2 separate regions of the Homo sapiens genome follow, and region 1 is linked to region 2. Evidence: fine-mapped expression QTL. A gene starts in region 2. The other region holds a variant in brackets. All regions are shown on one strand. Distances are from middle to middle.

Region 1 (5,352 bases), 52 kb after region 2:
ATGATTGTATAAATTAGATTTCAACTGAAAGGACAATTAGCGATTCAGAGAAAGCTCCTAGAAATAGACTGAAAACAAAGCCATACATAGAGTAAGAAATAGAACCTATGGAACTTCCATTTTTCTAACTATAGTTTTTTGTTTTTGTTTTTTCCCAGTTGTTAAAAAAAAAACAACTCACAGTTTCAATATTTTCTGAACCAAAAATCAGAACACATGGTTTGTGTCAAAGGGTTTTTCTGTGCTACGTCTGGGAGTGCTGACCTAAGTGACATTTTTTTTTAATGCCAAATACAGTAATCTCCAAGCTTTTAATGGCTTATGCCAAGATGACAGAATATGTGAAATCTGATTGTCCCAGAGTTACACTCTGCACTCCAAAGCTACAACAGTGCCACAGCTGAGAGGTTTCCCTATACTTCCTACTACTGTGACAATTTAGCAATCCTTCAAATGGAAAATTCCTAATTACACGAGACAATGGTCCTACAGTAGGCCCGTGCGGAATAAGTTCCCTCGTTGGAAAAATGCTAGCATGAATAGTTTGATAAATGCAATCCATCAGCAAAGGAGAGCAAGCAGGCAGAGACTGTGCCAAGCAGAAACTCATTCGCATCAAGTTTTCCAATAAGTTTCCTTCCCCCAGTCCCTTTTCTTCAATCCTGCTTTTAAGCCAGGCCCCAGGGTAAGTCTGGTAGAACACTGAGCAGGAAAGCTTGGAAGGGTTCTACACCACTTCAAAAATACCTTTGCTTAAAAACACTTATATAGCCAGTGATTAGCAATTAAAATGTGAAAATAATCAACTACTCAGTAGTTAAATTCTGCTAATTATCAAAAGTCATAGTCTACTGGGATCAGCAGCATTACAAAAGGAAGTCATATCGCATTTCTTAAGCTTTTTCTGAATGGTTTAACAGGTCTCTTTCAGTGTTAATTGCACTTAAAACATCTGCTTTTTTTCATTTAATCTCTGAAATCTGTTCATTTTTTCCCTCCATTTATAAAAAGGGGTCAATTTATCATTTGCTCTATAGCTATTTGAATTCGAAAAAGATTCCACAAAATTTGAGTTGCACACAGGCGCTTTCTGAAGCAGATTAAACTTGTCCTTGTGACACTTCAGAGCTTGGACTGCAGTGACTTCAGGTGCTTGTAAGATTCGTGGACCTGTGGGGAAAGGAGAGAGAAGAACTACTAATAAAGAGTTTGCCATGTTAAATAGTATACTGTTTTTTGTTTTTGTTTTTGTTTTTTTTTTGAGACTGAGTCCTGCTCTGTTGCTCAGGCTGGAGTGCAGTGGCACAATCTTGGCTCACTACAGCCTCTGCCTCCCAGACTCCAGCGATCTTCCCACCTTAGCCTCCCGAGTTGCTAGAACTACAGGTGTGTGCCATGACACCTGGCTGCTATTTGTATTTTTTTGTAGAGATGGGGGTTTACCATGTTGGCCAGGCTGGTCTAGAACTCCTCAATTCAAGTGATCCACCCACCTCAGCCTCCCAAAGTGCTAGGATTACAGGCGTGAGCCACTGTGCCCAGCCTGTGGTTGTTTCTGAAGAGTCCTTATCTTTTAGAGCTATGCATTGAATTATTTATGGATAAAATTATCTGATGTCTTAGTTTTTTTTTTTTTTTTGAAACGGAGCCTCGCTCTTGTTGCCCAGGCTGGAGTGCAATGGCATGGTCTCGGCTCACCGCAACCTCCGCCTCCCAGGCTCAAGCAATTCTCCTGTCTCAGCCTCCCAAGTAGCTGGGATTACAGGCATGCGCCACCACGCCTGGCTAATTTTGTATTTTTAGTAGAAACAAGGTTTCTCCATGTTGGTCAGGCTGGTCTCAAACTCCCGACCTCAGGTGATCCACCTGCCTCGGCCTCCCAGGTGTGCATCACTGAGCCTGGCCCTGATGTCTTAGATTTATTTCAAAATAGTCCCCAGGAGGAGGGGGATGAAGGTTCAGATGAAACACAACTAGCCACGAGTTGATAGTCATTGCTGCTAGACAAAGGGTGTACCAAAGAGCACTACGGAATTCTCTTTTTGTATATTTTATTCTATTTGTGTGTGTGTGTGTGTGTGTATACTTTTTTTTTTTTTTTGAGACAGAGTTTTGCTCTTGTCACCCAGGCTGGAGTGCAATGGCACGAACGTGGCTCACTGCAACCTCCGCCTCCTGGGTTCTCCTGGGTTCAAGCTGAGGCAGGAGAATTCCCGAGTAGCTGGGACTACAGCCGTGCACCATTACTGCCTGGCTGCTTTTTTTGTATTTTTAGTAGAGATTGGGTTTCGCCATTTTAGCCAGGCTAGTCTCGAACTCCTGACCTCAGGTGATCTGCCCACTCGGCCTCCCACAGTGCTGGGATTACAGGTGTGAGCCAACGCACCCGGCCTGTATATATTTTTAAATGTTCAATTCGTTATCAAAAATTGAAATTGATTAAGACCCTGGTTACTGTGGGAACAACCCAGTTCCCTTCTGAACCTGTTGCTCAAATAAAGTGACTGTCAGAAGTGGCCATGGTACTTTCAGAGCTTTCACAGATAAATCCCCTTCGAGAGGCCTTTCCTGCTTCAATATTTAAGTGAAGACTTTTAAAAAGGTGCAGAGACACTGGATTTTTACCTCTGCTTTGTTCAGTGGGGAGTTCTTAGCCCACTCAAACAAGTTTTCATACACATTCCCATCATAGCGGCCAAGCACAGAGCCAAGTGTCACATCCTGAAAATCAAATGCATCAACCAAAGCAACAGCATCTGAGCGAATCAGAGTGAGTAACTCCTTTACACGCTGGTTTACTTGTGTAATCTGAGGCTCTGTCATGATGCTCCCCTAAAAGAGACCAAAATAAGTAAATAAAACATATATATGTATATAGATAGACATAAT[T/G]ATATGCATATACAGCTATAAAGCGGATGACAATTATTTTTTTCTTTTTTTTTTTTTGAGACTGAGTTTCACTCTTGTTGCCCAGGCTGGAGTACAATGGTGTGATCTTGGCTCACCGCAATCTCCGCCTCCCAGGTTCAAGCAATTCTCCTCCCTTGGCCTCCCAAATAGCTGGAATTACAGGCATGCGCCAGCACACCTGGCTAATTTTGTATTTTTAGTAGAGATGGGGTTTCTCCATGTTGGTCAGGCTGGTCTCGAACTCCCGACCTCAGGTGATCTGCCCGCCTTGGCCAAAGTGTTGGGATTACAGGCATGAGCCACTGTGCCTGGCTATTTTTCTTTTTCTTTTTTTTTTTTTTTGAGACAGAGTATTGCTCTGTCACCCAGGCTGGAATGCAGTGGTTTCATCTTGGCTCACTGCAACCTCTGCCTCCAGGGTTCAAATGATTCTCGTGCCTCAGCCTCCCTAGTAGCTGGGATTACAGGCATGTGCCACTGCACCTGGCTAATTTTTGTATTTTTAGTAGAGACAGGGTTTCACCAGGCCAGGCTGGTCTTGAACTCCTGACCTCAAGTGATCACCGTACCCGCCTTGGGCTCCCAAAGTGCTGGGATTACAGGCATGAGCCACCGTGCCCAGCCAACAATTATTTTTCTTAAAACAACAACAAAAAAGACTTATACTTAGAAAATACTGACCTGAAGGAAATCCCCCGCGTTCTGACTGATTCCATACAGAGAATACAGCAGACATAAACTCCTTAAGACAGCTTGAATGGCTTTATCTTGAATTTTGAGGAGTTTTTCTGAAAAGAGCTTAACTACCACATAGTGGCAATGTGCCTAAGATTAAAAAGAAAACACCAGAGTTTGAGAACCTTGGAAAAAGATTCAATATACAGTGACTAGGGTTTCTGTACCAGAAAATGCGGGATGCTGAGGGCAGGGAAGGGGAAAAAGAGAGAACTACCACTGACCTCACTTGCTCGAACAAGGTCAACAGAAGTTAGGTTCCAAGCTACCTCCTTGCTTTTTCTGTGAATCACTTCTTTTTGAAGGTTTTTTGCAGCAATTTCTACTAATCTGTTAAGACATAGATTGGAGGTCTGAGGAAATGATCAACAGTACTCATGCCTTCTTGCCATCTGTCAGGGCCCCAGCCCCACTGCTGCGTATTCTAGCTCTTGAGGGAGAGCTCACCTGGCTGCACGGAGTTTATATGCTTCGGTTAGGCTTTCGGGGCTGTTGATATCCACCATGGTTGGCCAGACTGCTACCTGCTGTGGCTGGATGCGCTGACTGGGCAGGTCGTTCAAATAGGACACCATGCCACACACCAACTTTCCTGAGTGCACCTGATCATAACTTTTCATCAGGAACCTAAAAGTCACCAGTAAACATGCTTTTAGTAACTCTACTTTCTTTTGTTTCTTTTGAGATGGAGTTTCATTCTTGTTGCCTAGGCTGGATGGAGTGCAATGGCCAGATCTCAGCTCACTGCAACCTCCTCCTCTTGGGTTCAAATGAATGATTCTCCTGCCTCAGCCTCCCAAGTAGCTGGGACTACAGGCACCTGCCACCATTCCTGGCTAATTTTTAATATTTTGTTTTTTTAGTAGAGACAGGGTTTTACCATGTTGGCCAGGCTGGTCTCTTAACTCCTGACCTCAAGTGATCTACCCGGCTTGGCGTCCCAAAGTGCTGGGATTACAGGAGTAAGCCACCACACCTGGCCTTTTTTTTTTTGATGGAGTTTTCGCTCTTGTTGCCCAGGATGGAGTGCAATAGCGCAATCTTGGCTCACTGCAACCTCCGCTTCCCAGGTTCAAGCGATTCTTCTGCCTCAGCCTCCCAAGTAGGCCGGGATTACAGGCAATGTGCCATCATGCCCGGCTAATTTTTTTGTATTTTTTTAGTAGAGACACGGTTTCACCATGTTGATCAAGCTGGTCTTGAACTCCTTACCTCATGATCTGCCCACCTCAGCTTCCCAAAGTGCTGGGATTACAGTCATGAGCCACTGTGCCCAGCCCAGTAACTCTATCCTTGATACAACTGCAAGCTATGTAACAGGTGCTTCATACTCTCTAGCCTCACCACGAAATAAAAACCGTGAGTCAGGATGGAAGGCAAAAGTATACCTTTCAGGAACAAATATATATATACGGTGAAGAAAAACCATGGGAACAAGAACCTAGGAAAAGGACTAGAACATTCTTATGAACAGATGGGAGGAATCGAGGATTTGACTCTCACCTAGCCGTCTGGAGCATCATGACAGTGTTTTCTCCCTCAAAGGTACAGCTTGGGGTGAAATTGACATAAATATTTGGAAGACCACTGCAATGAGAATAGCCATGCCCACCACAAGCCATCCGACATGCTTCAATGCCAGTGTTTGCAGTCCAGGAGGTGAAAGCCTTCAGTCCAGCGGTGAGGGCATGAAGCTGAGAGGACAAG
Region 2 (5,000 bases):
GGCCTCCTCTGTCCCCGAATGATTCCACATCCTGTCTTCGCTGCTGAAATGGGTTTTGTCAAGGGCACGGACCACCTCCACAGTACCGATGCTGAAGGTCATTTCTGTCCTCGTACTGAGCCTCTGATCAGCATGGGCATCCTGCCCGTTCTCTTCCTGGCACCCCTGTCTCCAGGTGCCACACAGGGCTGCCATTCCCCCGACCTTCCCCATCTCCCTGGGAGCTCCAGCTTGGAACCTTCTCTTCCTCCTAGCGCTAATGATTCCCAGCTCTCGACTTCCAGCTCCCCGCTCCTGAGCTTTGGAGCTCACAGCAAGCTCCGCCTCCCGGGTTCACGCCATTCTCCAGCCTCAGCCACCAGAGGAGCTGGGACTACAGGCGCCCGCCACCAGGCCTGGCTAATTTTTTGTATTTTTAGTAGAGACAGGGTTTCACCATGTTAGCCAGGATGGTCTCAATCTCCTGACCTCGTGATCCACCGGCCTCCGCCTCCCAAAGTGCTGGGATTACAGGCGTGAGCCACTGCACCCGGTGGTGGCCAGGCTGCGGGGGGTCCGGCCCCCTCCTGCTCCTGGCGGCAGCACCCACTTGAGGAGGTGACCCTCACTCATGGTGCACAAGCTGCAAACACAACAGCCCTTGGTCTGGCAGAAGAGCTCCAGCAGCTGCCCGGGGCGGGGTCAGCGCGCGGCAGGGCTGGGGCCAGGGTCCCAGGTGCCACAGGCCCGTCCCCTGGTTTGTCCCACTGGCCACTGTGACCTCTATATGTCCAAGGCCAAACTCTGCCCTCCACCTACGCCTCTCAGGACATAGCACCCCAGCCACCTGCGTGCTCAAGACAGAAACCCAGGTGTCTCCCTTGCCGCCCTCTCTGCTGTCCCCCGTGTCCCCTCTGGCCTGCTTTCGCCTCCACAAGGTACCACTTCCCCTCAGCGTTTCTCATCTCCTCCTCCATCTTGGTCTCCCTTCCCTGATCCCCAGCTGGTTCTTTGCCTCCCTGCACTCCTACCCGATTCGGGTCTTACATCCTGCCCCCTTCAGCCCCCAGCCAGGTGATCAGTCTCCATGAAGCCCAAATCTGATCATGTGCCAACCTGCTTCCAAGCCTATAATGGCCCCCATGACCCTACAGTAAGAGCCAGACTCCCCCAGGACCCTGCCCGATCCTGCCCCTGCTGACCCCCAGGGCCTGGCCCACAGATCTCAGTGGCACAAATCTGCCACTAGGGACCCCGCGTGCCCAGTTCTTTCCCATCCCAGAGACGGGACCAGGCTGATTCCTCTGCCTAGAATGCTCTTCCCCAGGTCTTTCTCCTGGCTTGCGCTTCCTCAATCCTCACATGCCAGCCTGAAGGCGGCCTCCCCTTCCTCCTCCTGGCCCGTTTAGCAGGGTCACCCCAACCCCTCTATCACATGCCATGTGCTTTCCTCACTGCATTTTGTAATAATACATTCACGCCTTACTGGAACACTGACTTCTTAAGTGGATTCTAAGTCTCTTAAGGGCAGGGAGCTCGTCTGATCCATTTACCAACAGCCCCCATAGCCCCCTCGCCCTCCACAACCCCGCACAGCGAATGAAAGGAGGCTCTCGGAGCGCAGGAGACACACGACGGTTCTCTAGCGCTTGGGCACGGAGCAGGGAGCTGCTGCCTCACGCCCAGGCTTTGTTCATCCAGAGGGCACCGAGCAGCTTCTGAGACCCACCCTGTGTCACTGGCCGGGCTGCATATCCCAGTCTGATGCACAGACCCACGATTTTTTGTTTGTTTATTTTCTGAGACGGAGTCTCGCTCTGTCGCCCAGACTGGAGTGCAGTGGCACGATCTCGGCTTACTGCAAGCTCCACTTCCCGGGTTCACGCCATTCTCCTGCCTCAGCCTCCCGAGTAGATGGGACTACAGGCGCCCGCCACCACGCCCGGCTAACTTTTTGTATTTTTAGTAGAGACCGGGTTTCACCGTGTTAGCCAGGATGGTCTCGATCTCCTGACCTCGTGATCCGCCCGCCTCGGCCTCCCAAAGTGCTGGGATTACAGTCGTGAGCCACTGCGCCTGGCAGACCCACGACTTTTATAATCAGCTCCCAGGTTGGGAGAAGCCCCTTACAGATGAGGCTCCCCGCCCCCGCCGGGTGCCCGAGAGAGCAGGGCGCGGCCCGCAGGAGTCACCCGGCGGTGGCCAGGCTGCGGCGGGTCCGGACCCCTCCCGCTCCCGGCGGATGCGTCACCTCGCGCTTGAGGCGCTCGGCATCCAGCAGCGCCCGCTCGTGGAGGCGACACTCGCGCACGGTGCACACGCTGCACACACAGCGGCCCTCGGTCCGGCAGAAGAGCTCCAGCGGCCGCCCGTGGCGGGGGCAGCGCGCGGCAGGGTCGGGGCCGGGGCCGGGATCGGGGCCGGGATCCCGGGCGGGCCCGGCGCGCACCACCTCCAGCACGCCGCTGAGGGCCACGTTGCGGCGCAGCTCGGCGCCGTCGGGAAAGGGCTCCCGGCACTCGGGGCACGCCTTTCCGCAGCGGTCCCACCAGTCCCGGATGCAGGCCCCGCAGAAGTTGTGGCCGCAGGGCAGCGTCACTGGGTCCTGGTAGAGCCCCAGGCAGATGGCGCAGGTCAGCTTCTCCTCCAGCAGCTGCGCGGCCATGGCCCGGCGGCGGCGAGAGCCAGGCGGGCCCCGGGCGTCTTAAAGGGACCGCGGGCCTCGCGCGCTGAGGGCGCCTGGGCGTGGCTAACGCGGGGCGGGGCGAGATCCGGGCGGGGCGGGGCGAGATCCGCGCCCGGGAAGGCGGAGGGGGGCGGCAGGCCCTTCTCTGACACCCTCGACGAGCGACCGCCGCAGGGGCCTAGGCCACCCCTGCCCACCTCGGCCTGGCCCGCTCGAAGGTTCCGCGTTCCCGCCTTGCGCCCCTCCCTCCGTTAGGGTCCACGCCACCCCGGCTGAGAGCTGAGTTCGGCTCTCTAGGGTCCCAGCCTGGCGGGTCCATCCCACCCCCCTGGGCCTTCAGCCCAGGTCCTGGAGACCAGAGGCTCGAAAACCCCGCCAGGACTCCGGGCTTCTGACCACGGGCCGCGCGGAACCTCTTCTGGACTCATCTGCCAGTCGCCTAACAGCATAGACCCCCACCCCCAACAATCCCCCGGGGCTTGGCGATGAAACGGGCTGGCGGGCTCCCTGCAGACCCGAGCACTGCTGCACTTTTTCCTGGAGCTGGGTTTCGGACACTTGCCAGACTGGGGTGTCTCCCTTCTCTGGGCTACACGTAATTTTGGTTCTTTTAAAGTAAACAGCGAGATGGAAATGTCTGGTCACCAAGAGACAGGGACCAGTTAACTGGTATTTTTCAAATGGCCCTGAATGAATACACAAACCAGCTTTCATCTGCAATCAGCATCCCCTCTTCCTGCTGCCCTCCGCTGGGGAGAGTTCCTTGCCTGGGGTCCAAGCTGATCTGCAGCCTCAGTATTTACAGGCACTCCAGCATTTCCCCTGAAGCTGAGCAGGCAAGGCGGGTCTGGGGCCTAGCGCCCACCTACCTGACAGTGTGTATCAGGCCAGGGGGAACCCCAGGAGAGTACGGCCTTTCTAACCAAGCTGGGCTGATGTTGAGGCGGCACGAGCTCTCACTGCTGCAGCAAGCACTGCGTCCTCTGTGCGGCCATAGACGAAGTTTCTTTCTGGACAAAGTGCACGGATCTACCCTCCACCTACTAGTTAGCCAGACTTCTGCTTTTGGTAAGGGAGAAACAAAACACCTAACCATCCAGCCGCAAGACTCCATGGGTTTTCTGACCCTGAGCAGGTCTCTTGAGACACGCTGTTGCCTACCTAATGTGGCTTCTCCTCCCAAGCATGGGGTGGGGGCTGGAGCCTGTGCAGAGGGTCAGTGCTCGGGCAGGCACTCTCTCTCCAGGGGCCGGTGGGACCCCCCTGAGGCACAGAGCCAGTGCTCAATAAATGCTCCTTCCTGAGCCCAGCTGCTCTGCTCCACTTTTTCGGGGAGCTGGGTTTCAGGAACCTGCTGGATTGGGATGTCTCCCTTCCCTGGGCCACACCTGTTTTTGGCCCACTGCCTGCTTTTGCTTCGGATCCCAGGGCCCCTGACACCCTCAGAAGACGGAGGTGAGGACGCACTTAGTGGGGTGGGAGGCAGCCCGTTTCCCACCCATGAAGCTCCATCGGGGTCCTCTGGCCCTGGAGCACCGACCCAGGCCAGCTATGGCAGAAATCCCTTTTTTTAAAAAATACAGGCAGGGTCTCATTATATTGCCAGCTGGTCTTGAACTCCTGGGCTCAAGCGACCCTCCCTTCTCAGCCTCCCAGTGTTGGAATTACAGGTGTGAGCCACCAAGCCCGGCAAGAAATCATGTTTATTCACATTCCCCACCCCACCACCTGAGAGTCACTTTCACTCCAAGCCCTGGGCCTGACGGGAGGGGGCCAAAGAGGGGGGCTGCCTAAGGCAGGGCCCAGACCCCACAGTGTGGGCCTCTGGAGCTGTGTCTTTACTCTTGCTGCCGATCAATCCCATGCTCTGAAATGCGCACACTCTGGCTCCTTAGTAGATGCCATAGGTGGGCTCATGACTGTCCCTGTACCGGTCCAGGTAGCGCAGGGGCTGCCGGTGGGGGAAGCGCTTCTGCTTGGGGTGGTAAGGGGGCGGCCGCACGAACTCAAACACCGGCTCCCGCATGTCTGCAAGAAGAGTGAGGGGTACGGGGTGGTCTGCTGGCCTGCGCCCCCTCAGGCTGAGGCCTGCCCACCAGGGACCTGCCGCAGCCTTCCCCTAACAAAGCTTCTCCCTGGCAGGGCAGGCGAGGCCTGGGAGCTCAGGCCCACCCAGTGCCCCAGCCCCATGGCCCTTACCCAGAAGCTGGTGGAAGATGTAGGTGACGGAGTCATCCCAGCGGCACTGGAAGAAGGACAAGCCGGCTGGAGTCATGGTTTCTTGGTGTTTCTTGTAGAAATCAAAAGTGCGGAAGGTCCGCTGGGCCAGCTGATA

The links. PIP is the estimated chance that this variant, and not a neighbour inherited with it, causes the effect.
Region 1: its variant is the best candidate, but not a certain one, in a credible set for the expression of TRIM65 in tibial artery (GTEx, PIP 0.57).

The regions. Positions count from the first base shown.
Region 1 is chr17:75,945,626-75,950,977 of GRCh38, forward strand. ACOX1 (acyl-CoA oxidase 1) reads right to left here. Exons shown (of 14, transcript NM_004035.7): 9 at 5,149-5,339; 10 at 4,093-4,272; 11 at 3,870-3,975; 12 at 3,592-3,735; 13 at 2,626-2,832; 14 at 1-1,170. The coding sequence ends at 1,123. Among named protein-coding and RNA genes, the nearest start is that of FBF1, 7.3 kb to the left of the region's middle. The variant T/G (reference allele first, on the strand shown) is at 2,890.
Region 2 is chr17:75,894,294-75,899,293 of GRCh38, forward strand. TRIM65 (tripartite motif containing 65) reads right to left here and starts at 2,658. Exons shown (of 6, transcript NM_173547.4): 1 at 2,231-2,658. The coding sequence starts at 2,644. It overlaps MRPL38 (mitochondrial ribosomal protein L38), which reads right to left. Exons shown (of 9, transcript NM_032478.4): 8 at 4,865-5,000; 9 at 4,351-4,693. The coding sequence ends at 4,557. RefSeq lists silencers at 1,928-2,497, 2,528-3,007 and enhancers at 2,375-3,084, 3,085-3,792.